Linked DNA regions of Homo sapiens. The protein of the gene in region 3 purifies or fractionates together with the protein of the main gene of each other region. This does not show direct contact. Each region holds a gene or a part of one and is shown on either strand. Other genes may lie near its edges.

Region 1 (3,500 bases), on a different chromosome or scaffold from region 3:
GGTCAGCTGGAGGTCAGAGGGGGGAGGTCACAAGGGGACGGGTGGCATGGGACTCTCTCACCACCCTGGGGCCGTATTTACAGAGGGGCCCCACCCACCTTCGCCGCCCCCCAGGCCCCCAAGCCCTTTAGACAGCTGCTGCCGATGTGACTTCCGGGCAGGCCCTCCTCGTGTCTCCTGCCTGAAACCCCGGCATTGTCCCCGCTTCCCTCTGCAGAGTGGGGGGGGTTCAAACTCCTAACCGGCACCTCGGAGACCCCCGGGCCTTCTGGAAGCCCCAGCGTCGGCTCAGCCAACGCCCAGGCCGCTGGGGCCACCACGATCGTCGCTCGTGGACACACACCCTGCACGCGTGGCCCACTTGACACACACGCCCACAGCAGCCTTCGCTGGCACGCACACACACGCCCACCTCCCCGGCCCCTTGCACACGAACACGGCACGCACACGCACGCACACCCACACACGCCAGGGGCCTGGGTTGGGGAGGGACCTTTCCAGGGGTGGGGGAGGGCTTAGGTCTGCAGCTGTGGCCCCCCATTCCCCACCGGCGTCCAAGCCTCCCCTGCCTGCCGCCACCCCGAGAACGGAGTTGTGCAATTGGTTAGAAAACCGCAAAAGAAACCAAAACTGCAAAAAAAACCAAAACCTACGCGCATAAGGTCAACCTCAAATCCATAGCAAAGTCCTCCCGCCCACCCACCCCCAAACCGTCTCAGCGTCCTGCGGCCCCGGGTAGGGGGAGGGCGAGCTGGTTGTGCTTCCTTGTGGCGGAGGGGGCCCCCCACTCCGCGGGTGGGTCGCGGGGGGGACTTGAGCACCCACTCGGAGTTGCCCCGGGCCCCGGCGTTCTGGCACCGTCTCTCGCTCCTGGTTCCCGTGGCTGGCACTGCCAAGGCATCGGGGGGCCCCCGGCCTAGGGCACGGGGGGCGCAGTCCTGTCCGCCCCCCCATAGGGGAGGAGGTGGGCCAAGTCTGTGCCCGGCCGGGCGTGGCAGCCGCGGTGGCGGTCCCCAGGCCGGGCCTCGCCGCTGTTGAACGTGTGGGTGCGGCGCAGGGTGGCGGCCGGAGGGGCGTGGGGGCCCAGTGGCCTCCTCAGGCTGCCCGTCGGGGGCGGGCTCCAGGGCCGCGGGAGGCCATCGGCGGCTGAGGCTGGGTCCAAGGGGCCCGTGGGCGCGGACACCACCCGCCGGCGGTCCGGGCTGGCGTGGGGGGTGAGCGGGAAGTCGCCGTGGGAGGCGCGGCCGGGCCGGGCAGCATAGAGGCGGCCGTCGGGGGTCGGCTCCCCAGGCGCGGGGGGCTGCTCGGGGGCCCGGGCGGGCGCCAGCAGCAGGAGGGAGGATGAAGCGGAGGCCGGGAGCAGGGGGTGGCCGTGGTCCCAGGCGCGGGGGCCCAGGGCGTGGGGGTGCGGGTGCGGAGTGGGCAGGCGCTTCTGCGGCAGCGGCGTCTGCTCGGGCGTGGGCAGCAGCCCCGAGTCCAGGTCGTGGGGCCCGCCCTGCAGCAGCGTGGCCTTGGCCCAGCCGTTCTGCATCAGGGGCGCCAGCAGGGCCTCCGGGGGAACCCCGGCGCCACCGCCACCGCCTCCGCCCCGGCCCCCGGGACCCTGCGCCCTGCGCTCGCCCAGGCGGCTGACGCTCAGCACCGCCTCGCCCGCCCCGTGCGCCAGGATGGCCTCCTTGTCCTTGCGCCGGGCCAGCTCCCGCCGCTCACGGAGGCCCACGAACCAGCCCACGCTGAAGCCGGACACCACGGCTCCCACCACGAAGGCCGCCACCGACGACGTTACCAGCAGGTTCACCGACACCAGCCCCGCGCGGTCCTCGGAGAGGCTGGCCCGCAGGAGTCCTGGCCGGGGAGCACAGGGGGGTTAGTGGGGCCGGCGGGGTGGCCCTGGGCATCCCTCCTACCTCCTCGGGGCCCTCTGTCCTCTTTTTTATTATTTTTATTTTTTTTTATTTATTTATTTTTTGAGAAGGAGTCTTCCTTTGTGTGCCAGGCTGGAGTGCAGTGGGGCGATCTCGATTCACTGCAACCTCCGCCTCCCATGTTCAAGTGATTCTCCTGCCTCAGCCTCCCGAGTAGCTGGGACCACAGGTGCCCACCACCACGCCCGGCTAATTTTTGTATTTTTAGTAGGATGGGGTTTCACCACGTTGGCCAGGCTGGTCTGAACTCCTGACCTTGTGATCCGCCCACCTCTGCCTCCCAAAGTGCTGGGATTACAGGCATAAGCCACCACGACTGGCCTTATTTTTATTATTTTTTAATTTTTTTTGTTTGTTTGTTTTGAGACAGTCCCCCAGGCTAGAGTGCAGTGGTAAAGCTCACTGCAACCCTGCCTCCAGCTACCTGTTTGTTTTATTAAAGACAGGATCTGGGCCAGGCATGATGGCTCACACCCATAATCCTAGCATTTTGTGAGGCTGAGGCAGGAGATCACCTGAGGTCAGAAGTTTGAGACCAGCCTGGCCAACAAGTGAAACCCATCTCTACTAAAAATACAAATTTTAGCCGGACATGGTGGTGTGCGCCTGTAATCTCAGCTACTTGGGAGGCTGAGGCAGGAGAATCAATTGAACCCGGGAGGTGGAGGTTGCAGTGAGCTGAGATCACACTACTGCACTCCAGCCTGGGTGACAGAGCAAGACTCTGTCTCAAAAAAAAAAAAAAAAGACATGTTCTCACTCTGTTGCCCAAGCTGGAGTACAGTGGCCTGATCACAGCTCATTGCAGCCTCCACCTCCCTGGGCTCAAGCGATCCTCCCGCCTCAGCCTCCCAAGTAGCTGGAACTACAGGCATGCACTGCCACGTCTGGATTATTTTTGGGTTTTTGTTTTAGAGACAGGGTTTCACTATATTCCCCAGGCTGGTCTCAAACTCCTGACCTCAAGTGATCGTCCTGTCTTGGCCTCTCAAAATGCTGGGATTATAGGCAGGAGCTGCCGCGCCTGGCCCCTTCTGTCCTGTTGAAGTTGGTCTGTCTGCCTTCTGTTGTCTCTTCGTCCTTGCCAAAGCCTGCCTGTTTCTTGGTGTCTCTGTTCTTCCCCTATCTCCCTCCCCAATAAATGAGATGAGACCACCCCATGCCTTTCTTTTCTTTTTTTGAGACGGAGTCTTGCTCTGTCGTCCAGGCTGGAGTGCAGTGGCGTGATCTTGGCTCACTGCAGGCTCTGCCTCCCGGATTCACGCCATTCTCCTGCCTCAGCCTCCCGAGTAGCTGGGACTACAGGCGCCCGCCACCACGCCCGGCTAATTTTTTGTATTTTTAGTAGAGACGGGGTTTCACCGTGTTAGCCAGGATGGTCTAGATCTCCTGACCTCGTGATCCACCCACCTTGGCCTCCCAAAGTGCTGGGATTACAGGCGTGAGCCACCGCGCCCGGCCCACCCCATGCCTTTCTAAAGTTCTCTGATGGAGTCCAGTTTCCCCACCCACCTCCCAGAGGATTCGAGGGTCCTCCAGCCTCCTCCCTCCCCTCCCCCATGGTAGTGGGGGATG
Region 2 (3,500 bases), on a different chromosome or scaffold from region 3:
TTGTTCCACATTCTGCCTGGAGCCAAAAGACACAATTAAGCCACCACATAGGATGTGTGTCTCCCTGATCATGTCACAGTCCTCCAAAATGCCAAGCTTGGCCCTGTCCCTGGACCTTTGTAAGTGTCACCATCTCATCTGCAAAGAACTTCCTGTCCGCTTCACTCTCCAAGTATTACTTTTTTTTTTTTTTTGAAGCAAGGTCTCACTCTGTCACCCAGGCTGGAGTGCAGTGGCACAATCATGGCTCACTGCAGCCTCGACCTCCAGGGCTCAAGTGATCCTCCCACCTCAGCCTCCTGTGTAGCTGGGACTACAGGCATGCACCACCATGACTGGCTAATTTGTTTTTATTTTTTATAAAGATGAGGTCCCACTATGTTGCACAGGCTAGGTATTACCTATTATTAAAGCCTGGCTCAAATCATCCCCTCTGCAGAAGTCTTCTCTCTACTCCTCCTTTGGACTTTTATAGACTGGAGACTAGACCACTCACTTAACATGAACCAGATTCTGCCCCACAGTGATCTGTATTGGTAATTGTGTATCTATGCGTGTTACTGAAAGATAGAGAGAGAGAGAGAAACAGAGAGCTCTGGTTTTTTCGTTTGTTTGTTTGGTTGGTTTTGAGACGGAACTTTGCTCTTGTCTCCCAGGCTAGGGTACAATGGTGCGATCTCAGCTCACTGCAACCTCCTCCACCCAGGTTCAAGTGATTCTCCTACCTCAGCCTCCCGAGTACCTGGGATTACAGGCGCCTGCCACCACACCTAGCTAATTTTTTTTTTTTTTTGAGACGGAGTCTCGCTCTGTCACCCAGGCTGGAGCGCAGTGGCGCGATCTCAGCTCACTGCAAGCTCCGCCTCTCCGGTTCACGCCATTCTCCTGCCTCAGCCTCTCTGAGTAGCTGGGACTACAGGCGCCCGCCACCACGCCCGGCTAATTTTTTGTGTTTTTAGTAGAGACGGGGTTTCACCATGGTCTCGATCTCCTTACCTCGTGATCCACCCACCTCGGCCTCCCAAAGTGCTGGGATTACAAGCGTGAGCCACCGCACCCGGCCACGCCCGGCTAATTTTTTTGTATTTTTAGGAGAGACAGGGTTTCGCCATGTTGGTCCGGCTGGTCTCGAACTCCTGACCTCAGGTGATCCACCTGCCTCGGCCTCCGAAAGTGCTGGGATTACAGGCATGAGCCTTCCCCTGTAGTAACTAGCACAATGCCTGATGCTTAAAAGGTTCTCAGTAAGAGTTTGACAAATGGATGGATGAATGAATGGACAGACATTTTTACATTTATAAGGACAAGGACCATGTCTCACACCTTTTTATATCTCCCTGATGTACTTGGAATCATACCATATTCCTAACTTGTGTTCTCTAAGCACACCTATGCGTATGCACACACCATAAACACACACACACACACACCCCATCCGTGCATTCAGTCATGAGAAGCAATACTCACAACAATCTTGCCCCCAGGCCCCTGGCTCCGAACACTGACTCCCAACCACTGGTTCTCCTTGCTTTCCTTTTGCATATCAGCTAGAGGCAGGACACTGGGAATTAGGGGAGGGAAGAGGAGCCCAAGTCCTCTCCTCCCCGCTCACACGCTTCCCCCACTCTGTTCATGCAGGGCCACACCTCCCTGGTCGATGTCCACTCTGTAGCAGTCAGTCTCCTCCAGGCTCAACGGGCAAGCGAAGAGGCCTCCAGTGCGATTCGCCTGCTGCCCAGGAAGAGCCAGGGCCTGGGGAGCACCCACCAGCAGCCTGCAAGATGGGGCAGGGGCAGGGACAGGGACAGGAGTTAGAGGTCAGAATGACCCAATCTCATTAGAGCTGCCCAGGCCCAACCCCTCAGTACTAAAGAGAGTGTTCAAGGACTAAAGAGAAGGGGCAAATGTCAGTTTTCTCAAACCCTGGCAAGGACAAATTAATATGCTTGGTCATGCAGTCATCACGTTGCATGTACATACTATCTGGATAAGGGATCAACATACACAGTAGATACACACACACACACACACACACACATACACGCCAACCCAAGCAGCCAGGCCAACAGTGCTGGTTTGAAAGAACTGCCTGTTCCCAGCACCTGTTCCTGAGTAGGCCTTCCCTATCCCCTCCTTGGCCCCATCCCCAAGCTCTGCCCTGCTCCCCAACCCAGTCCAGTTGAAACCCAGCCAGAAATGCCAAGAATGCTGGGAGCAAAAGTAACAGGGCCCCAGACTGGCATCAGAGTGTGGCTCAGGGACCAGCTTCAGAGGCCAGGCAAGAGGCTAGATACGGACCCACTGCCCCCTCATCAGGGACCCAGCAAAGACCCCACCTCCCAGAAGCTGTGCCAGCCCAGGATTCCATCAGTCACTCTGGCTGGCATGGAGGTAGGGACAAGTTTCTCCTTCTGCCTCCAATGCTACCCCATTCTCTTCCCGACATCCTGAATCCCCTTCCCCATCCTTCCTTCTCCCCATGTCCATGATTTCTCCTTCCCTTCCACCCCCACCCAGTCTTCTCTCCTGCCTCCCCCTCAGCCTCTTTCCCAGCTACAACTTTCTTGGCAGGACAATTTTCCATGATCACAGCCAAGCCGTCTTCCCCAGGGGAGCACAGTGCTGGGAATGGAGGCTGCCTGGGTCCCCTGGGGCTGAACCCCCAAGCCAGAGTGAAGGCGGGGGTGAGGTAAGATGACTGACACCCAGCTGGCTCCATGGGTCCTCTCTTTGCAGAAGGAGAGACTCAGAAGTGGCAGTGGGACAAACCTCAACGCCTCTCTCCCACACTCTTCTCCTCCATCTCCCTTCCTGGGGGGCAAGGCCCAAAACCATGTTAGGCAGTATTACAGACAGGCATCTGTGGGGCACTGTGCCAGCTCTGATGGGGTGGAGGGGGAGGGCAGAGAGCCATTCTTCCTTCCCACAACTCCTCCTCATCTCTTAGCAGCTGCCATCCCTTGTCAGAGCCAGTGTCAAGACAGAGAAGGGGTATAGGGAGTAGTAGAGAAGAGAAGACACATTTGGCATTCAACTACTTATTGAGAGTCTATTGTATGCCAAGCCCTGTGTCAGGCGCTGGTGAGACAAGGAAATCATATTTATTCAGCACCTACTATGACGTCAGATCCGAGGCTAGACACCAGGGATATAAGAAACTAACATTCATCACTGTCCACATATGTGCCAAGCACCAGGATAGGCAAGTCACATGCATTATGTCATTTAATCATCAGAACAATCCTATGAGATAAGGATTCTTTTCTTGTCTTTCAGATGAGAAAACTCACTCAAAGACATTAAGCAGTGATGCTGGAATTCAAATCCACATGGGCCTAACTCCAACACTTTGTCACTCCACCCAGTGACTGACCTGTCTCTAGAACACTGAGACCACCCCAGAAAGGGAAGGAGAGAGTGGGGAGATGAGGGTACCCTGGGCAGAAAAGGAAACGGGGTGATACAGCCCTGCATAAATAAATGGCAACCTTCAGGCAAGT
Region 3 (3,998 bases):
GGGACCCCAGGGGGAAAGAGCAGTCTGAAGGCCATGTGCCCTGGGTGCAGGCAGCTGCAGTGGCATGACAGGGCAGAGTTGATAAACTCAGATTGGCCAGGAGCCTGCAAGTGGACCCCTAGCTGCCTGCCCCTCTGCGCTCCCCACTAAGGCACAAGCAGGGCAGCCTGGTAGAGGCTGCTGCAGGCTCACTCCTCTAAGTCTCTTTGTCAGTTGCACCTGTGCCCACACCACACCCCATGTGGCATCCACAGCTGTATCCAGGAGGGAAGCTGGTGTCCTGTCTTACATTGTTCAGCTCTGTGCTTTCTTGGAAATGGCAGTTGTCAATGTCGTCTTCAAATTTCCCACACCTAGTTCTCCCCAGCAGTAGCTCCATTGAGAATACAGTCTTGGACTCCACCTATTGCACACAGAGAGATTAATGTGAACACACCCTCCTTGTTGCCCCTAAGTAGCTGCTGGTGAAGATGTCATTTGTGTAGGAGAAGTCCCAACATTCTCCTCCATTAGGGAGCTTGCCCATGGGCCTGGCATCAGGAGATCTTCTTTAGATTGGGCAGTTAAGAACAAAAAGCGGATGGGCATGGTGGCCCCAGGGCAGACACCCATGAATGTATCCCTATTTCCAGATGCACTTCCCACTCTCCCATGGTGAGACCCCAGTTTCACTCTCAGTCAGTGTCTGAACCTGCAGCTGCATTTCCAGAGGATGGCGCTATGTGCCTGGGGAGGGGTTTGGCTCTCCAAGAGCTTTCAGGGTAACCTCAGCCCTGGGACAGAGGGAGCCTCATCTAGGGCATGTTGTCAAACCTTCCACCTGACCTGAGGAAAAAAAAAATGCAAGAATGCCACCCAGCACTCCCACTACACACAGGCATACATCCTTGGGACAATGGCTTCAAGAAACACCATCTGGGGCCGGGTGTGGTGGCTCACACCTGTAATCCCAGCACTTTTGGAGGCTGGGGTGGGTGAATAATGAGGTCGGGAGTTCGAGACCAGCCTGGCCAACATGGTGAAAACCCATCTCTACTAAAAATACAAAAGTTAGCTGGGCATGGTGGCAGGTGCTTGTAATCCCAGCTACTCGGGAGGGAGGCTGAGGCAGGAGAATTGTTTGAACCCGGGAGGCAGAGGTTGCAGGGAGCTGAGATTGTGCCATTGCACTCCAGCCTGGTTGACAGGGTGAGACTCCATATCAAAAGAAAGAAAGAAAGAAAGAAACACCATCTGCCCTATTGCAAAGTGCACCTTGATCTTCTCACTCCTTTCAGTTTCACTTCATTCCATCTCCTTTCTCCCTATCCGTCCATTTCCCCAACTCCAAAACTGACTCTGGAATTGTCACATCCAGGAACCCACGTGGCAGGCTCCAGCCCAGAGAGCAGGGGTCAGAGAACCAGCCAGGGCCTTGCACAGGGTCTTTCCAGAGGCTGAAGCTTGGTGCAGGGTTGGGGTCCTTTTGCTCTTCTTGCAAGGTTTCAGTAATGAGGTAGGAAGAGCATTTTTGCCTCTCTACCCAACTAGAAGTCCTCAACTTAGCTGGGTGCAGTGGCTCATGCCTGTAATCCCAGCACTTTGGGAGGCCGAGGTGGGCAGATCATGAGGTCAGGAGTTCAAGACCAGCCTGGCCAACATAGTGAAACCCTGTCTCTACTAAAAATACAAAAAATTAACCAGGCATCTGGCGGGTGCCTGTAATCCCAGTTATTTGGGAGGCTGAGGCAGGAGAATCACTTGAACCTGGGAGGCGGATCTTGCAGTGAGCGGAGATGACGCCACTGTACTCTAGCCTGGGTGACAGAGCAAGATTCCATCTCAAAAAAAAAAAAAAAAAAAAGTCCTCAACTTGGTGACTATTTTCATTGTTCATGCCTACAGCACAGATGAACTGTGCATTCCTGATTGCATTCTGTAGTGACTTCATTAAAAGGAGAACATTTAGGATTAAGACCTGTGGTCTGAGGAAGAGTGTGAAACAGTCTTCAGTTTATTAAGTGCAGACACACCAAGGAGCTCAGAGAAGTTGGAAATCAGCAAAGAGGAACTGACCACCCAGAGGTCTTTTGGGACTGGTGGGGGTTTCTTATTGCTCCTGAACCCTTACTGTTCTCTTTTTTAATTTTCATTTTTTAAATTATCTCTTTTTTATTACATTTTTTGGAAGTATTTCTCAATTTCTCTCTATTCACATTTTCTGTTCAGCCCTTTTCCTTATTCCGTATCTTCATTTTCTTGGTAGTCCTCATTTTGAAGTCATTCTTCAGTTAAATAATGTCATAAAAAGATGGAGATTAAACAATATGTTTTTCATGAGAGTTGATTAGGATCAAATTATTTGAAATTTCTAACTTAGATGTTTTCAAAATCAAAAACTAACTAAACTACCTTGTATTTTCTTAAGTATGGACTACAACTGGTGAACAAGACTCTTCAATAAGACCCCCTGTCCCCACCCCACTCCCATTTTTCACTGAGCAGCACATGCCAGATGCCAGGGCAGGAGGGTACGTGGTCACCAACCTGCTCCTTCCAGGAATTCAAGATGTGCCCCAGTCTGTAGGCATAGTAGTCCTTGCTCTGTTGGTTGAATGTGTGGACAGCAAACTCCACTGTGGCAGGGAGGTAACGAGCCATGACATTGTGTTCATCACAGTCCCTTTGCTCGTGGAAATGCCAGGCATAGATCAGCAGGATCTGGGAGCCTAAGAGAAGCAGCAGCAGCGCCCAGGACAGACCTCCCTTCCACGGCAGGCCCAGCATGGTGCTGACTGTAGGCACCGCTGACTTTGCTCTTCCCAGCCCCCGTGCCCACAGGAGTTAATTGAGCACAGACCCAGCCCTTAATCTTATCTGCTCAGACAGCCCTGTGGGACAAACTTGTCTCACCCCACACTGGCAACAGGCACTCCTACAGGACAGGAAGGACAGGATCCTGGATTAAAGGGAGGCAGCTCTGGATGTGGAGTCACTCATCTGCCATCCTTCTGCCCTATACTCTCTAGGCCAGCACAAGCCACAGGCAGGAGGGGAGCTACCCTCTGCCACTAGCTTTGAAGGCTGCTCCTTCAGAACCCACAGGTTCTGGTTGTCCTCAGGTGCTTGGTGTCCTTGGATGATTCTGTGCCTTCGCCTCCCACAGCGAACTGAGATAAGACCTGGGGACATCTCGACTCTCACTCTCCCCTCCTTCACCCCGTCGAAGAGAGGATCTCCGTTGTTCAGAAAAATAACTAAGATATCAGTTTGTTCTTTTGTTGTATAATACCTCAACAGTTGTACTCTGTGAACCAAGGGAAAAAATGAAAAAAATAAATGGCAATTTTTATCAACCATTTTGACCTGGGATGGACAATGAGTATTGTGAGAAAAGGGCAGGAAAGACAGAGACCCAAGTCCTGAGGCCCCAGCCTGGTCATGCCCAGCCCAGCCCTGCTTGCATTTCTAAACCTTGTCAGCCCTGGTTCCAGCTGAGCCAGAGCCAAGGTTTCTACAGGGCCCACCGCCCTACATCTGCAGCCCCACCACACACACTCATGTTTTATTAGACTGGAATATCATTCTAGACCAAATTTTTAAACACTTCTCTGGGAGATCACATGTTTCTGCCTCAGTGAGATAGAGGTTGGACCATTCTTCAGCCCCTTGATCATTTTTGTCTCCATCTGACCATCCTTCTTGGTGTTCTAGAGTGAGCTATTTTGCCAGCACTTAGGTGATACTAGGTGGTTACTTTTAAATCAATTTCCTGGCAATAACTAACCTGAAAGAGGAAATAATAATATTTTGTTGCTGTAAGAATGAACATTAAATAGTGCAGGACAGGTGAAGTATGCAAAAGTGAGAGCTTTGAGTTTGGCTGAGAAGACTATGGTGCTGCAATATAGGCAAGAACCTAGCATTGTTGCCAGATAACAGAATAGAAAGTTCAGTCCCAAGTCAGGGAGACTGATTCTACAAGAACTGTTCTGACTGTGTCCCATACCATGTTCCCA
Region 4 (3,500 bases), on a different chromosome or scaffold from region 3:
CTATGTCTGTGGTTTAAAACAAAATCCCTTGAAGTGGAGCGTCCAGCTTGCCCTGCATCTGGGGTCCTTCATAGGGAACCCTAATTATTGTTGATGAACAGCACATTCCTGGGGTGCTTAAGATGCAGGGAGCCGATTTGTGGCCTCGCCCAGTGGCCAGTAGGGAGAGGAGGATGAGGGGACAGCCACTGGGGGCTCCACAGTCAGCTGGAAATCTCTGAAAGGAACACTTCAAAGAAGTGTGTGGAATTTGGGTTCTCTTGCGTTGGAACTACCATGCAGAGCTCCAGGACCAAAGCCTCGGTCAGGAGCAGGAGTGGTGCTGAGTAGAAACAATGGCGCCCAGTGCTTCCCAGCCTGGCCACGTGGGGAGAAACAAAACACGCCTCCTCTCATGGCCCTCCAAAGTCTTTTTGGGCCACCTTATTTGGACACTTAATGGGAGTTATTATTATTGTTATTTTGAGATGGAGTTTCGCTCTGTCTCCCAGGCTGGAGTACAGTGATGCCATCTCCGCTCACTGCAGCCTCCACCTCCCAAGTTCAAGTGATTCTCCTGCCTCAGCCTCTCGAGCAGCTGAGACTACAGGTGCCCGCCACCATGCTTAGCTAATTTTTGTATTTTTGTAGAGATGGGATTTCACCATGTTGTCCAGGCTGGTCTCGAACTTCTGACCTTAGGTGATCTGCCCATCTTGGCCTCCCAAAGTGCTGGGATTACAGGCATGAGCCACCACATCCGGCCTTAAAGGGAGTTATTAATTCCCTCCTGCCCCAGAAGTGCCGGGCGGGAAAGCTCTGGACGCAGTATTTCTGAAGCAGATTGGACAGAAATCTGCAGGCCTGCAAACTGCAGTCAACAAAACGCCATTGAGCAGAGAGAATGGAGCATTTGGCACAAATCAGCTGCTTGCCCTCTGGCCCTGGAGGAGGCAGCCAGGGTCAAGGCTGCCCTGGGAAGCCCTGATGCTGGTCGCTTGTTGAGCCCTCAGCCCGGTTACTGGCTTCCCTCCTTGACATGGTCTCAACTGGACATGAGCCTTTGTCCCCAGCTCTGTCCTATGGGCCAGCATCTCTTTGGCTCTGCAGAGGTGAGTGGAAGGCGCTCTAACTGCGGATGCTCAGAGCCTGGCTTTGTAAAGTAGCTTGCCACCCTTACTAACTGCACAACCTTGGGCAAGCTCCTGGCCTTCTCCAGGCCCATTTTCACATTAGCAAGAGAGGAATAATGGCCATCTTCACAGTGTTCTGAGAGGATTACATGAAATAATGTATGTAAAGTGTTTGGCATGGTGCCTGGCACATGCTGCATCCGTAGTAAAAAGGTAGCTTCTGCTCTGGTGTGCTAGAAACCCCCTGCCAGCCTTGCTTGGTGAGGTTATTTGCATCCATTTTTGTGCACACTGGTGGTATGCAGGCCCTCTGCTAGGTGCCAAGCCTTGTCAGGCTTAGTGCCTGCCCTGGTAGAAAAGACAAAGCAAGGCCCCCAGGAGCTGATTGGAGGTCATTACCAGGGGTCCTGCTTAATTATAGCCCAGTTATTAAGTGCTCCTGATTCAGCCTTTTCAAAGTCCTCCTTTGCCTGAAGAACCTCCTCTGCATGGGGCTGGACCATGCCTCTCCCTGCCTGCCCTTCACTGGTTCTGCTCTGCCTTCAGCACAACCCACATCCAGCTGGTGTTGAAATACCTCTGTGCCAACCCAGGAGAGCGCTAAACTTGCACAACTTTTGGGGCATATCTGGATATACCAGCATGTTCATCCTCTAGGCAAGAGACAGAGGGTGGCACGGGGCCTGGAGAAAAGGCTAGACTCGGGTCATGTCATCAATCACTCCTTCCTTTATCTTCTTAGAGCCTGTTGCCTCTCACTCCACCCCCATGGGTGCTCAGGCTGGCGCAGGACTCAGGGGGCCTCTGATGTGGCCCTCCCTGGGGATCGGGGCAACAGGAACAACACAACGCGAGACTCCTGTGGTCGAGGCCTGCCTTCCCTCAGATTAGCTTTTTGGGAAGTCTGCTCCCTTGGACTGCATTCTCCATGCTTTTCCCCAGCTGGTTTCCCTGCCCCTCCTCTTCACATTCTGACCTCCCTGTGCTGGATGTGGGACAGCTATCCTGTCTGTAAGATAAGATAATTAAAAGCCTGGTGGCTCTTTCCCTGCTGCCACCAAGTCATGCAGAGACGGAGGCTCAGGCTCAGTTGCGTTCAAGATTCGGCTTCACCCGTAACCCACTGCCATGGCCGAGGAAGGCATTGCTGCTGGAGGGGTAATGGACATTAATGCTGCTTTACAAGAGCTGTTGAAGACAGCCCTCATCCACGATGGCCTAGCACATGGAATTCGCAAAGCTACCAAAGCCTTAGACAAGCGCCAAGCCCATCTTTGTGTGCTTGCATCCAACGGTGATGAGACTGTGTATGTCAAGTTGGTGGAAGCCCTTTGTGCTGAGCACCAAATCAACCTAATTAAGGTTGATGACAAAAGAAACTGGGGGAATGGGTAGGTCTCTGTCAAATTGACAGAGAGGGGAAACCCCGTAAAGTGGTTGGTTGCAGTTGTATAGTAGTTAAGGACTATGGCAAGGAGTCTCAGGCCAAGCATGTCATCAGAGAGAACTTCTAATGCAAGAAATGAAGAAAATATCTTTGGCTCACAAAAAAAACAAAAAAAGCCTGGTGCCCACAGCGGCTCTATACTTATTAGCTCACCATCGACCCTCTTCTGGGCACTGAATACTGGAACACTAAGGGGTGGCTCCTGCCCTGTGGCAGAGATGGTCACAGAAGAGTAGAGTGGCTACAGAGTGATACACAGAGGTGGAGTGTTCTGTCCAGCTGCTAGAGTTCTGCCTCCCAGGCCTGTGATCTGACTTGTTGTGCATGGAAGCTCTATTCTGCACTCCTGGATCCATCTGGAAGCCCATCCTGTAGTCTTAACAGGCTTCCGAGAGGTGGGGGGCCTGTGGCGAGGGGGTTTCAGTGGGGATGGTAGGTAGGAGACAGAAGCCATCATTTTACCATACTCCTAAAGAGGAGCCAAATTAGCCAACTCGTGTCCTCTTTTTTGGCATCTTTTGGCCCATCCTCTAGGAAGGGGGCCAACTGGAAGAGCAAATAAAAGCGGCCATTGCGGTGCACTCCCTGTGTGCCAGGCACTGCTGTTGGATGTGGAAGTGCATTGCTTTATCTCATGCAGATGAGGAAACCAAAGCTCAGTGAAGCTAACTCATTATCAAGGTCATGCAGCTATAGAAGAGTTTGGGACCAAGCCTTGGGCCACAGTTCTCGATTCAGCAACCACATTCTTTCCATTAGAACAGCTGCCTCCTGCTTCACCTGTGAATCGTACAAAAGCAGCAAGATGACCCGGCTCAGCCCTTGAATAATTGCAGGTTATATTTTTCCATCTGTTAAAGAAATCTGTTGAGGTCAGTCTCTGGACGGGGCAGGGGATCCAGCCGAGGCCCCTGGTTGCATGGCCATAGTTGGGAAGAGGG
Region 5 (3,500 bases), on a different chromosome or scaffold from region 3:
TCTGCTCCTGCTCCTGGTGTGATCTTAGTTAACTCACCCTAGTTTTCCTGCCCCTGAAATGGGGACACTGGCATGTTAAGTGGATTCAGAGAGGGAATGTTTGCAAGGTGTCTGCTAAGGCTCAGCCGGCAGCAAGAGCGTCCCATTCAGTCTTCCCACCTACCCCATGCACCCAAAACCATGCCCCCGGCACCCACTGTGGGCCAGGCTCTGGGCACTTCCCTTACACGCCATCATTTAATGCTGGCCAGCCCTGGAGGCTGAGCATTCCGTGTCTCCATCTTATAGAAGGGGAAAAATGATCTCGGAGTGTCAGCCCACCTGTCCCTACTCTCACGGGGCAGTGGCAGAGCCGAGGGCCGGTTCCTGCAACTCCTCAAAATGAGGTCACATTGCTGTCCACACTGGCAGCTCCCAAGTCTCGGGCACTGAGCATGGCAGTGGTCCTTTGCCCCCAGCACTCTGATGCAGGGGACGCACTTCTCCCCTTGTCCCATGGCTAGAAAACAGGCTCAGAGAAGTTAAGGAGGAGTGCACAGCTCAGAAGGAACACGCGGCCCTCAGTCACAGCAGCCACCAGCAGTGTCCAGTGTCACCCAGCAAATGACTGACAAGGCCATTGGCTGGGCCAGTGAGGCTGGACAGGGGATTCTATACTTGTCCCAGGCTGCAAGGCCATCCCCTCGCAGCTTAGGAAACTGAGGAAAGGTGGGGTTCTTGGTTTTCTGTTTTGCCTCCAGCCACAACTTCAGCATCTGGGGCAGTGCCCAGCACAATGGGGGTGCCCTCTGAATGTTTGCTCAGTGACTGAATCACAGAATGCAATGAGTTCGTGTCTGGGGCCTAAGCCTGGGAGCAAGGAACTGACTGAGCAAAAACTTCCCAGGCCCCTGGGGAGTTCGCAAGCATCAGGCCTGGTAGCGGGGACCATGGAGGAGGGGGAATCCAGGAGGATGGTGGAGGATGGTGAAGGTTTAATTTAGCTCCTAGCAGCTCATTGAATTATTAATCTCCTACTGACATTTCTGTGACATGTCTGCCACAGACTGTCCCCTTGAAGAGTCTGGACCTGCGGCCTCACCTGCGTTCCTCCACCCCAGAGGGGCCTTCTTCCAGCAGGAGAAGGGGAAGGAAACCCTCCCAGCTCCTGCCCCAGTTCTGCTGCCCTTGGGGTCTTAAGATAAGACAGGCATGTCATGGGGAACTCTGAACACTTAGACCTCATCCCGGGCTGGATGGGGGATGTCAGAGCCTACCCTGGAACACCCTGCCCTAGACAGCAATTGCAATAAGCAGGCTCTGTTTATTGATATTTAATCCTTAGTCCTCCCCACAACTCTCCAAATAGGTGCAGCTCTCTTTTGAGTAAACAAGTTCAGAGAAGTCAGGATATTTTCTCAGAGTCACATAGCAGATTGGTTACCGAGCTGGTTTTGAACCCTGGGCTGTCTGACTCCAAAGTATGTGATTTCAACCACCTGTCACCCTGGTATGGTCAAGCCACCGGGGCCCTGCTCCAGAAGTCCCTGTTTCACGCCCTGAGTGGGCCCAGTGGCCATACAGAGCCTTTTGCCAAGGACCGTTCTAGAGAAGCTTGCTGAGTGAGGGAATGAAGACTAAGATGGTCCGCCCCTTTACCAGCCTATCAGTGTCTAGCCTTGCTGCTATGAAGGACTAGGGTGGGGCGTTCAGCCCCAGCTGCACCCTGAAACCACCTGGGGGACCTTCACAGCACTCATGGCCACGCCCCACACCCCCACCACAGCCTGAGCTGTCCTTGAGGGCCGGGGCCAGCTCTGCCTGCTGCTCGCCGTCATGTGCCAGCACCAGGAACAGAGCCTGCCAGGGACCCAGGATGCATCTGTTGCCTGATGTTGGCCATTGTCATTCCCATTTTGCATACTGGGGAAGCTGAGGCTCCCCTGGGGTCACTGAGCAGGGGCGGTAGGCATCTGAGTGTTCCCAGCCTGTCCTTCCTCCCCTCAGTTGATTTCTGTTTCTCTGCCCTGTGAACAGCAGGAGCTTCCAGCCCGTGTGAACCTCTCAGCTGCCCCAGCCCCAGTCTCTGCTGTGCCCACCGGCCTACACTCCAAGATGGACCAGCTGGAGGGGCAGCTGCTGGCCCAGGTGCTGGCACTGGAGAAGGAGCGTGTGGCCCTCAGCCACAGCAGCCGCCGGCAGAGGCAGGAAGTGGAAAAGGAGTTGGACGTCCTGCAGGGTCGTGTGGCTGAGCTGGAGCACGGTGGGTCCTGGGTCCTGCAGAGGGCATTGGAGGGGTCCTCAGGATGACAGAGCCATTCAAAAAATATATCCATGCTCCCCGGAGGCTAACATCGACAGACTGGAGGGTGGGGAGGAGGCTGTGGAACACACAGTGGAGAGAATCATTGGGGGATATTGTTATCATTATCAACATTATTAACAGATCTCATTTTCTGGCACTTACTGTGTCCTGGGAGTGGGCTAAGTACTTGATACATCAGCTGATTTAATCCACAGTTTTCACAGATGAGAAGACCGAAGCTCAGAGAAGTCAAGTGACATGCTCAAGGTCACACAGACAAAAGTGGCGGGTCTGGACCTCAAACAAGGTCTGACTCCACAACCATACATTTAACCACCCACAAAATAGCATTTTCAATGACTTGGTCAGGATTTTGTTTAACACTTGTGCCTGGCACTGCCAAGGGGTCAAAGGAACATAATGGGCAGGGTACAGGTATAAGCATAAGGAGACCTGGCTCCTGGTTGCATATCTGTCTCTGGCTTGCTCTGTGACCTCAGAAGTTCACTTCCTTCCCCAGGCCTCAGTTTTCCTCATCTGAGAAATAGGGGTTTAGGACTCATGAGCTCTCAAAGACCTTTCAGCTTTCAATTCTTGTGAAGACCACCCTTAAGAGGCTTACAGACAAGTTGGGGAGAACAGGAGAAATGGTGAGCAGTTAGCTGGGACCAGCTTACATGGGGAACAGGGGTTCAGGAGAAGAAAATCCAGGCCCAGGCATGGTGGCTCATGCCTGTTATCCCGACACTTTGGGAGGTTGAGGTGGGCGGATCACCTGAGGTCAGGAGTTCAAGGCCAGCCTGCCCATCATGGCAAAACCCCATTTCTACTAAAAATGCAAAAATTAGCTGGGTGTGGTGGTGCATACCTGTAATCCCAGCTACTCGGGAGGCTGGGGCAGGAGAATTGCTTGAGCCTGGGAGGTGAAGGTCGCAGTGAGCTGGGCAACAGAGGGAAACTCCGTCTCAAAAAAAAAAAAAAAAAGAAAGAAAAAAAGAAAAAGAAAAGAAAAGAAAGAATATCCAAGCTGCTTCCTGGAGGAGGCAGGCCTCAAGCTACTTCTTGAAAACAGTGGTGAGGAGCAAATTTCAGAATGGAGGGGCCATCGCAGGGGCACAGCTGCAGGGGAGGGACAGGTCTGGTGGCTCAGGGCCAGCATCCTAGGTGGAGCACAGGAACAGGAGAAGCAACCTCCAGCCCTCCTCAGCCCTGCCTC
Region 6 (3,190 bases), on a different chromosome or scaffold from region 3:
GAACATGTGGAGGGATGTGGAGGATGCCCCCGCCCGCCCCCCACCTGTGGGAGGAGACAGATGGACAGGGCACAGGGGACAGAGAGGGCCCAACTCACCTGTGGCCTGGCAGAAGAGGTAGAAGTTCCCCAGGGCGTGCACGTGCTGTGCCTGGTCACTCAGGAAGGGCGGCAGCAAGGAGACCCTCGAGCTGCTGTCGGGCCCCGCACCCGAGGCTGGCCAGGGGGTCCAGGGAGAGGAAAGCCTCCTGTCCCCCACATGGCCCAGACAGGACAGGGAAGAGGAGCCAGGAGGAGGGAGGGGCTTAGGAGACGAGGCTGTGAGACAGAGAGGACAGAAAAGAGAGGGCACTGAGGAAGAAGTCGCCAGGAGCACGTCACAGGCCAGAGAGGGCAAAACACAGCAGGAAACGGACAGAAAAGAGCGAGCCCAGCTGTCCCGCCTGGGCCATGCAGGGGCGGGAGGCTGCACAGCCTCCGCTAAGGAATGTCTTCCCCAAATCAAGGATAGAAGCTTCTCATTTATTTGGGTACTTTCCAAATGTATACAATTCAAAGTAGAAAAATAAAAACAAGGTAAATCTTATAAAACACAAATGTTTACACCAAAATGGTCAAATCCTATCATGCTGGAAGATAAGACTGTCCACACACGCGCACAAACATCCAGAGTTTATTGCTCTTCACCATGGAAAAAAAGTCTCTTCCCGATGGGTATTTACAAAGCGGGGAGATGGAGTGTGAAATTAACCAGTGTTGAAATCGTACCACCCATTCACATCTTCAGGACAGTGGCAGGAACAGCGCCGTATGCTTGAGGGTGCTGTGGTCACAGCTCGCGGCCCCGGCCACCGAGGCCCAGTTCCCTTCCAGTAGTGGGCAGCTCAGTGAGGCTGGATAGAAAGTCTGGGCAGGCAGTGGGTAAGCAATTGAAGCAAGAAGAGAAAGGAGATGTTCAGAGAACCAAAGGCGCCCTTGTGAAGGTTCCATCTGTCTCACAGGAGGTTCTGACCGACAGCTGTGGGCTCCAGATTGTACCGCACTCCCATCTCAGCTCTGGGCCAGCCTGGCTCCACTCAGCTCATCCAGGCTACCTTCCCTTGCTCAAAACCCACCTCGTGGATGTGGGAAGGTCCTCTTCTTCGAGAGAGTAAAAGTTAAAAAAAAAGAAAAGTAAAACGAAGTACAGAAAGAAAATCTCTCCAAAAACAATGCTTCCCTCAAGGAATAAAGTTAAAAAAAAAAAAAGAAAAAGAAAAAAGGTGAGTGGGCTCCGGGGAGTGTTTATGTCTACATTTCTAAAAGCAGAAAGAATGCATTTAGCAAAAGGAAGTTTATCCCTGAGAATCTTAAGCAACGTAAGCCGTATTTTATGCCAAATATATAACAAAATCTGGAAGATATACATCTTCTTCTAAATATTAACACAACTGCTTCTGTAACTAAAAAAAAATGACCCATGACATAAACACAATCAAAGCAAAATCCTAAAAAAATAATTAAGTGGAAGAAAAGGTTCGTGCCAATCTGGACAACAGGCGATAAGTTACCAATCTGATAAACTAAAATGTCATTTCCAATCTGGAATTAAATAATCTTTTAGTGGCTGCTACGGGGAGGGGAAGCTGAAGGGATGCTCTTCTCAGCCAACAGAGGTCCAGCCACCTTTCCCCCACTACAGAAAGGGCTCAGGAACTCCGTGCCGCCCGTGGGCCTTCTTCAAGTACTCCGACTGACTTCGGAACACAAGACTGGGATGCAATGCTTGTCATTTTTCCAAAAGGACAAAGAGAAACCAAGTCACAGGCTCAACCCAAGAGAAAATAGACAAGAGGACTGAGGTTGTCTGCACGATGCGGGCTAACCTACGCAGCACTGCACGAGACTCGGATACTGAACAGGAGAAACACAAAACTCTCCACGCCTGGACACGTCGCAGCCGAGGCACCAGCGGGGATGCACAGCCGGCCTCAGTCTCCATCTGCGTCTGAGTCAGCGAACTTCAGCTCACACTTGACGTCAAAGGGCTTGTCCCTGGCAGAAAGGTCGTCGATCCTCTGTGAGTCCTCCCTATCCGTGGGGACTTTGCTGGTGATGGTGTCTTGCTCGGTCTCATAGCCGGTGTCCAGGGCTGGCTTGGGGTGCTCCCCATTCTGCTGGGAGAAGCTCCCTGGCTCTACTAACGTCTCCTTCAGGCTCTGCTCACGGTCACAGAAATCTGACTTGGGCTTCTTCTTCCCAATTAGTAGGGCCGAGCGGAATTTCAAGCACTGTCTGGGCAGGTATCCCTTATAGCAGTTGTAGAAAAAGAGGCAGAGGAAGAGAACAAAGAAGAAGAGGAAGAGGGACATGAGGAGGCGGTTGTCGCTGGACTTAAGATACATGGTTTTCTCCGAGTGGAGCTGGGGGACCGTGTTGATGACGATCTTTGGTTCGCAGGATGTGCCGGTGGGCGCAGGCTTGGGAGGAAGGGTGATGGCCCCGGAGGAGGTGGCCTGCACGGCTGGGGTTGGGGGAGAAGACCCTTGGGTGGATGCCACCAACACTTTGGTGGCAATCCTACTACCTTCTGTCTGAACAACTGACAAGGTGGGGGCCACTACGGGCTTTGGAACCACCTTCACTTCCAGGACGTGCTTGGCGACCACTTGGAAGACCGTTTTGTTCTTAACCCTCTCCTCTGACAGGCACTGGTACACCCCACTGTCTCCTTCTGACAAGTTGAAGATGAGCAAGTTTTTTCTGCCCATAAGACCGTACTTGGGGCTCTCGGCCTTCAACACGCCATTCTGGAACTTCCAAAAGACCCGGGCCAGGTTGGATTTTTGGGAGCATTTCAGTTCCGCTGTGCCACCGTGCTTGAAAAAATGCTGCCGGTAACTTCCTTTACTTTTATCTGGAACATCAAAATAAACGTGCACAGCGTCAACAATCCCCATTTGCTATTTAACAACTTCTTTAAAATACCCACAAGATGACGCAAGAGTTTCACCCACTGTAGCAACATGGAATCTTCCAGAACAACTAAGGAGATAAAGACATGCGTGACCAAAAAGCAAAGATGAGCCCTGGATGACAGCCCATGGGGACAAAGAAATTGGAGGCAGCTCTGAGCAGCAGAAATCCCATTTCTCACCCGTGTCCCAGAAGAAAACGCGTCAGGCTGGGGAAGCTGAGCAGAGGCCAGTTCT
Region 7 (3,500 bases), on a different chromosome or scaffold from region 3:
CTTGTCTTTTAGAAGTTGATCTCTTAGAAGATGATGGAAGTTTCAATATTTCAATATTTAATGAAACTTGTTTGAAATTGAACAGGCGTTCTAGGAAAGTTGGATCAGAACACATGTACCAAGTAAGGAGATCTCTTATGCTTTCCATTAAAGAATTGTGTCATTTAAAAATTTGGGCGATCTCCAAGTAAGTATCCAAAGTATTTAAAAATGAATGAACTTCTAGACAGTTTGTGATTGTTGTTTCTAGAGATGGATGTAAGATGTGAGATGGGTGTAAATGAGGTACTAACTTGAAGAAAGATACTATATTTGGTGACTTGCTATCATTTTCTGTGCCTGGCATTTCAAGCTTATATTTTATTTTAATGCATTAAACAATACAGCTTATTTTGCTATCAGATTCACATTTGGGCATGGAATTTATTTTTATTTTTTATTTTTATTTTTTGAGACTGAGTTTCGCTCTTGTTGCCCAGGCTGGAGTGCAGTGGCATGATCTCGGCTCACTGCAATCTCTGCCTCCGGGGTTCAAGCGATTCTCTTGCGTCAGCCTTCCTGAGTAGCTGGGATTGCAGGCATGAGCCACCACGCCCAGCTAATTTTGTATTTTTAGTAGAGATGGGGTTTCTCCATGTTGGTCAGGCTGGTCTCAAACTCCCAGCCTCAGATGATCTGCCCTCCTCGGCCTCCCAAAGTGCTAGGATTACAGGCGTGAGCCACCACGCCCAGCTGGGCATGGAATTTTAAGGAACTCTTTGGATGGCTATTGACCCTCATTTAACTTGATTTTTTCTTAAACATCATCAGTAAAATTGTAAGTAAATTCAGGCAGGAACTGAGATTTATTTTGTGTCATTTTTAGTGCCTAGCAAGTCATCTGGTAGAGAGCAAACTCAGTAAGTATTACATTAAAAAAATTTTTTTTTCTTTTTTGAGACCGAGTCTTGCTCTGTTACCCAGGTTGGAGTGCAGGGAGGCGATCTTGGCTCACTGCGACCTCCACCTTCCAAATTCAAGCGACTCTCGTGCCTCAGCCTCCCAAGTAGCTGAGATTATAGGTGTGCACCACTATGCCCTGCTGATTTTTGTATTTTTATTAGAGATGTCGTGTCACCATATTGGCTAGGCTGGTCTCAAACTCCTGACCTCAAGTGATCCACCCGCCTCAGCTTCCCTAGGTGCTGGGATTACAGGTGTGAGCCACCGCGCCCAGGCCAAAATTAATTAATTTATTCTATTTACCAGAAGTATATCACATATTAGGACTTGGAAGTTTCCAATTCAAACTGATAGAAATATATAGGTAAATAGGCAACTACAATATGGTATAATGAGTGCTTTGACAAAAAGTAAATTAATAATGGAATAATAAAAGTAAATAAGTATAAAAATAGAGATTTTATTTGTGTGTGTGTGTGTGTGTGTGTGTGTGTGTGTCCAGGTACAATTTTTTTGTTTTTTTTGAGATGGAGTCTTGCTCTGTCGTCCAGGCTGGAGTACAGTGGCATGATCTTGGCTCACTGCAGCCTCCCTCTCCCAGGTTCAAGCAATTCTCCTGCCTCAGCCTCCCTAGTAGCTGGGATTCCAGGCATGCCCCACCATGCCCAGCTAATTTTTGTATTTTTGGTAAAGATGGGGTTTTGCCATGTTGGCCAGGCTGGTCTCAAACACCTGACCTCAGGTGATCCAGCTGCCTTGGCTTCCCAAAGTGCTGGGATTACAGGTGTGAGCTACTTGCCAGGCCAGGTACAATTTTTTTAACCAGAAGCAAAGACTGTTATACTGAGTCATAGAAAGTAAGTAGGAATTGGCCAGGCGTGGTGGCTCACGCCTGTAATCCCAGCACTCTGGGAGGCCAAGGCGGGTGGATCACGAGGTCAGGAGATCGAGACCATCCTGGCTAACACGGTGAAACCCCATCTCTACTAAAAATACAAAAAATTAGCCAGGCGTGGTGGCGGGCACCTGTAGTCCCAGCTACTTGGGAGGCTGAGGCAGGAGAATGGTGTAAACCTGGGAGGTGGAGCTTGCAGTGAGCCAAGATCGCACCACTGTACTCCAGCCTGGGCGACAGAGCAAGACTCCGTCTAAAAAAACAACAACAAAAAAATTAGATAAAGGTTAATTTGTGTGACATGTGAAACACTTTTAAATTGACTGGAAAAAAGTCAATATTTAAAAGCGGTTTGCTAAAGAAAATAGACGTATTGCCTAAACACGCATGAACACATTATGCCTCACTAGTAAGTGGTCCAGAAGAATAGGGGACTGCCAGACCGTGGAGGAGCAGCTCTGACGATAGCATAGTCTAGGTTGTGGCCATGGATATGGGTGGCCAAAGTGGAGTGAAGGAAGTTCATAGCATTGAGCTCAAAGAACTCTGAGGCCAACATTTGATGGTTTATCTGTAAGGACCTTTAAGTTATCCAAGAGAATTCAAAGAGTTTGAGAGAGAAGAATCCTTATGAACCACCTGTCAGGGTCTTGGATGACTGTCAAAATTGATAAGAGAAGAGTTAGTGATTGATGGGAATAAGGAGGGATTGAGGGTGGTATAGACAATGGTGCTAGCATCAGTGGCAACACCGAGCATATGTCTCCACCAGCTAATGCACCCTAACTGATCAAGGGCTGATCATATTACTTATAGGACCTTCACGAAAGTTTTTTCCCTATAATTCCCTGCTGGAGCTGGCAGTGCGTAGAGGATGGTTAGGTGACAGTGTGTGATATGACTCCATGGATCAAAAGCCCTTTTACCAGAGGTCTAATAGGAAGGGTCCAGTGAAGTACCATGGCATTTGCTTTGAATGCATAATCTGGGGTGGTCCCCATATGTTTTTGTTTTTTTTTTCTTCCATGGGTAGGGTTAAGGAACCCACCTAGTTTAAGTACTCTGTTCTATGAGGCTTGTCCATGGATTTCTTACAATGAAAAGAAACTAAAAGAATTTTGGTTGGGTGCAATGGCTCACACTTGTAATCCCAGCACTTTGGGAGGCTGAGGTGGGCTTGAGGCCAAGAGTTTGAGACCAGCCTGGGCAACAAAGTAAGATCCTGTCTTTACAAATTAATTGTAAAAATAATTACCCAGGTGTGGTGGTGCATGCCTGTAGTTCCAACTACTCGGGAGGCTGAGGATCACTTCAGTCCAGGAGTTTGAGATTGCTGTGAACTAAGATTGTGCCACTGCACTCCAGCCTGGGTGACAGAACAAGACCCTGTCTCAGAAAAGAGACAGAGAGAGAGAGAGAGAGAGAGAGAGAGAGAGAGAGAGAGAACGAAGTATTCAGAAGGGAAGGAGGAAAAAAAATAATTTTGCCCATTAGCTCCAATGTAATCTCTTTCACTTGCGTTATAATCAAGGGATTATTTTGGAATAGACTAATATTTTCTTCATCTGAGATGTAGTTATGCATATTAAGCTTGGTCCTATACCTGATTGTGAGGACAGGTAAGGTAGCTTTGTCAAGTCCTTCCTCAGGTTAGCTTGCTATT

Evidence for each region.
Region 1: the proteins of CST9L (region 3) and SEMA6B purify together in Homo sapiens (affinity purification with mass spectrometry; one large-scale study listed by BioGRID and IntAct). This does not show direct contact.
Region 2: the proteins of CST9L (region 3) and ITGA7 purify together in Homo sapiens (affinity purification with mass spectrometry; one large-scale study listed by BioGRID and IntAct). This does not show direct contact.
Region 4: the proteins of CST9L (region 3) and SEMA4B purify together in Homo sapiens (affinity purification with mass spectrometry; one large-scale study listed by BioGRID and IntAct). This does not show direct contact.
Region 5: the proteins of CST9L (region 3) and NPTXR purify together in Homo sapiens (affinity purification with mass spectrometry; one large-scale study listed by BioGRID and IntAct). This does not show direct contact.
Region 6: the proteins of CST9L (region 3) and SEMA4D purify together in Homo sapiens (affinity purification with mass spectrometry; one large-scale study listed by BioGRID and IntAct). This does not show direct contact.
Region 7: the proteins of CST9L (region 3) and SUSD1 purify together in Homo sapiens (affinity purification with mass spectrometry; one large-scale study listed by BioGRID and IntAct). This does not show direct contact.

Annotation. Positions count from the first base shown.
Region 1 is NC_000019.10:4,542,685-4,546,184, forward strand, and holds part of SEMA6B (semaphorin-6B precursor), read right to left. Parts: intron 1,846-3,500; coding exon 917-1,845; 3' UTR 1-916. UniProt on the Homo sapiens protein: Functions as a cell surface repellent for mossy fibers of developing neurons in the hippocampus where it plays a role in axon guidance.
Region 2 is NC_000012.12:55,701,405-55,704,904, forward strand, and holds part of ITGA7 (integrin alpha-7 isoform 2 precursor), read right to left. Parts: intron 1,775-3,500; coding exon 1,647-1,774; intron 1,548-1,646; coding exon 1,468-1,547; intron 17-1,467; exon of another isoform or gene 13-16; coding exon of another isoform or gene 1-12. UniProt on the Homo sapiens protein: Integrin alpha-7/beta-1 is the primary laminin receptor on skeletal myoblasts and adult myofibers.
Region 3 is NC_000020.11:23,565,685-23,569,682, forward strand, and holds the start of CST9L (cystatin-9-like precursor), read right to left. Parts: upstream 2,801-3,998; 5' UTR 2,767-2,800; coding exon 2,527-2,766; intron 404-2,526; coding exon 290-403; intron 1-289.
Region 4 is NC_000015.10:90,204,330-90,207,829, forward strand, and holds part of SEMA4B (semaphorin-4B isoform 1 precursor), read left to right. Parts: intron 1-2,152; exon of another isoform or gene 2,153-2,659; intron 2,660-3,500. UniProt on the Homo sapiens protein: Inhibits axonal extension by providing local signals to specify territories inaccessible for growing axons.
Region 5 is NC_000022.11:38,827,029-38,830,528, reverse strand, and holds part of NPTXR (neuronal pentraxin receptor precursor), read left to right. Parts: intron 1-2,016; coding exon 2,017-2,242; intron 2,243-3,500. UniProt on the Homo sapiens protein: May be involved in mediating uptake of synaptic material during synapse remodeling or in mediating the synaptic clustering of AMPA glutamate receptors at a subset of excitatory synapses.
Region 6 is NC_000009.12:89,376,735-89,379,924, forward strand, and holds the end of SEMA4D (semaphorin-4D isoform 1 precursor), read right to left. Parts: intron 2,896-3,190; coding exon 1,970-2,895; 3' UTR 501-1,969; downstream 1-500. UniProt on the Homo sapiens protein: Cell surface receptor for PLXNB1 and PLXNB2 that plays an important role in cell-cell signaling. Regulates GABAergic synapse development. Promotes the development of inhibitory synapses in a PLXNB1-dependent manner.
Region 7 is NC_000009.12:112,098,798-112,102,297, reverse strand, and holds part of SUSD1 (sushi domain-containing protein 1 isoform 2 precursor), read left to right. Parts: intron 1-12; coding exon 13-122; intron 123-3,500.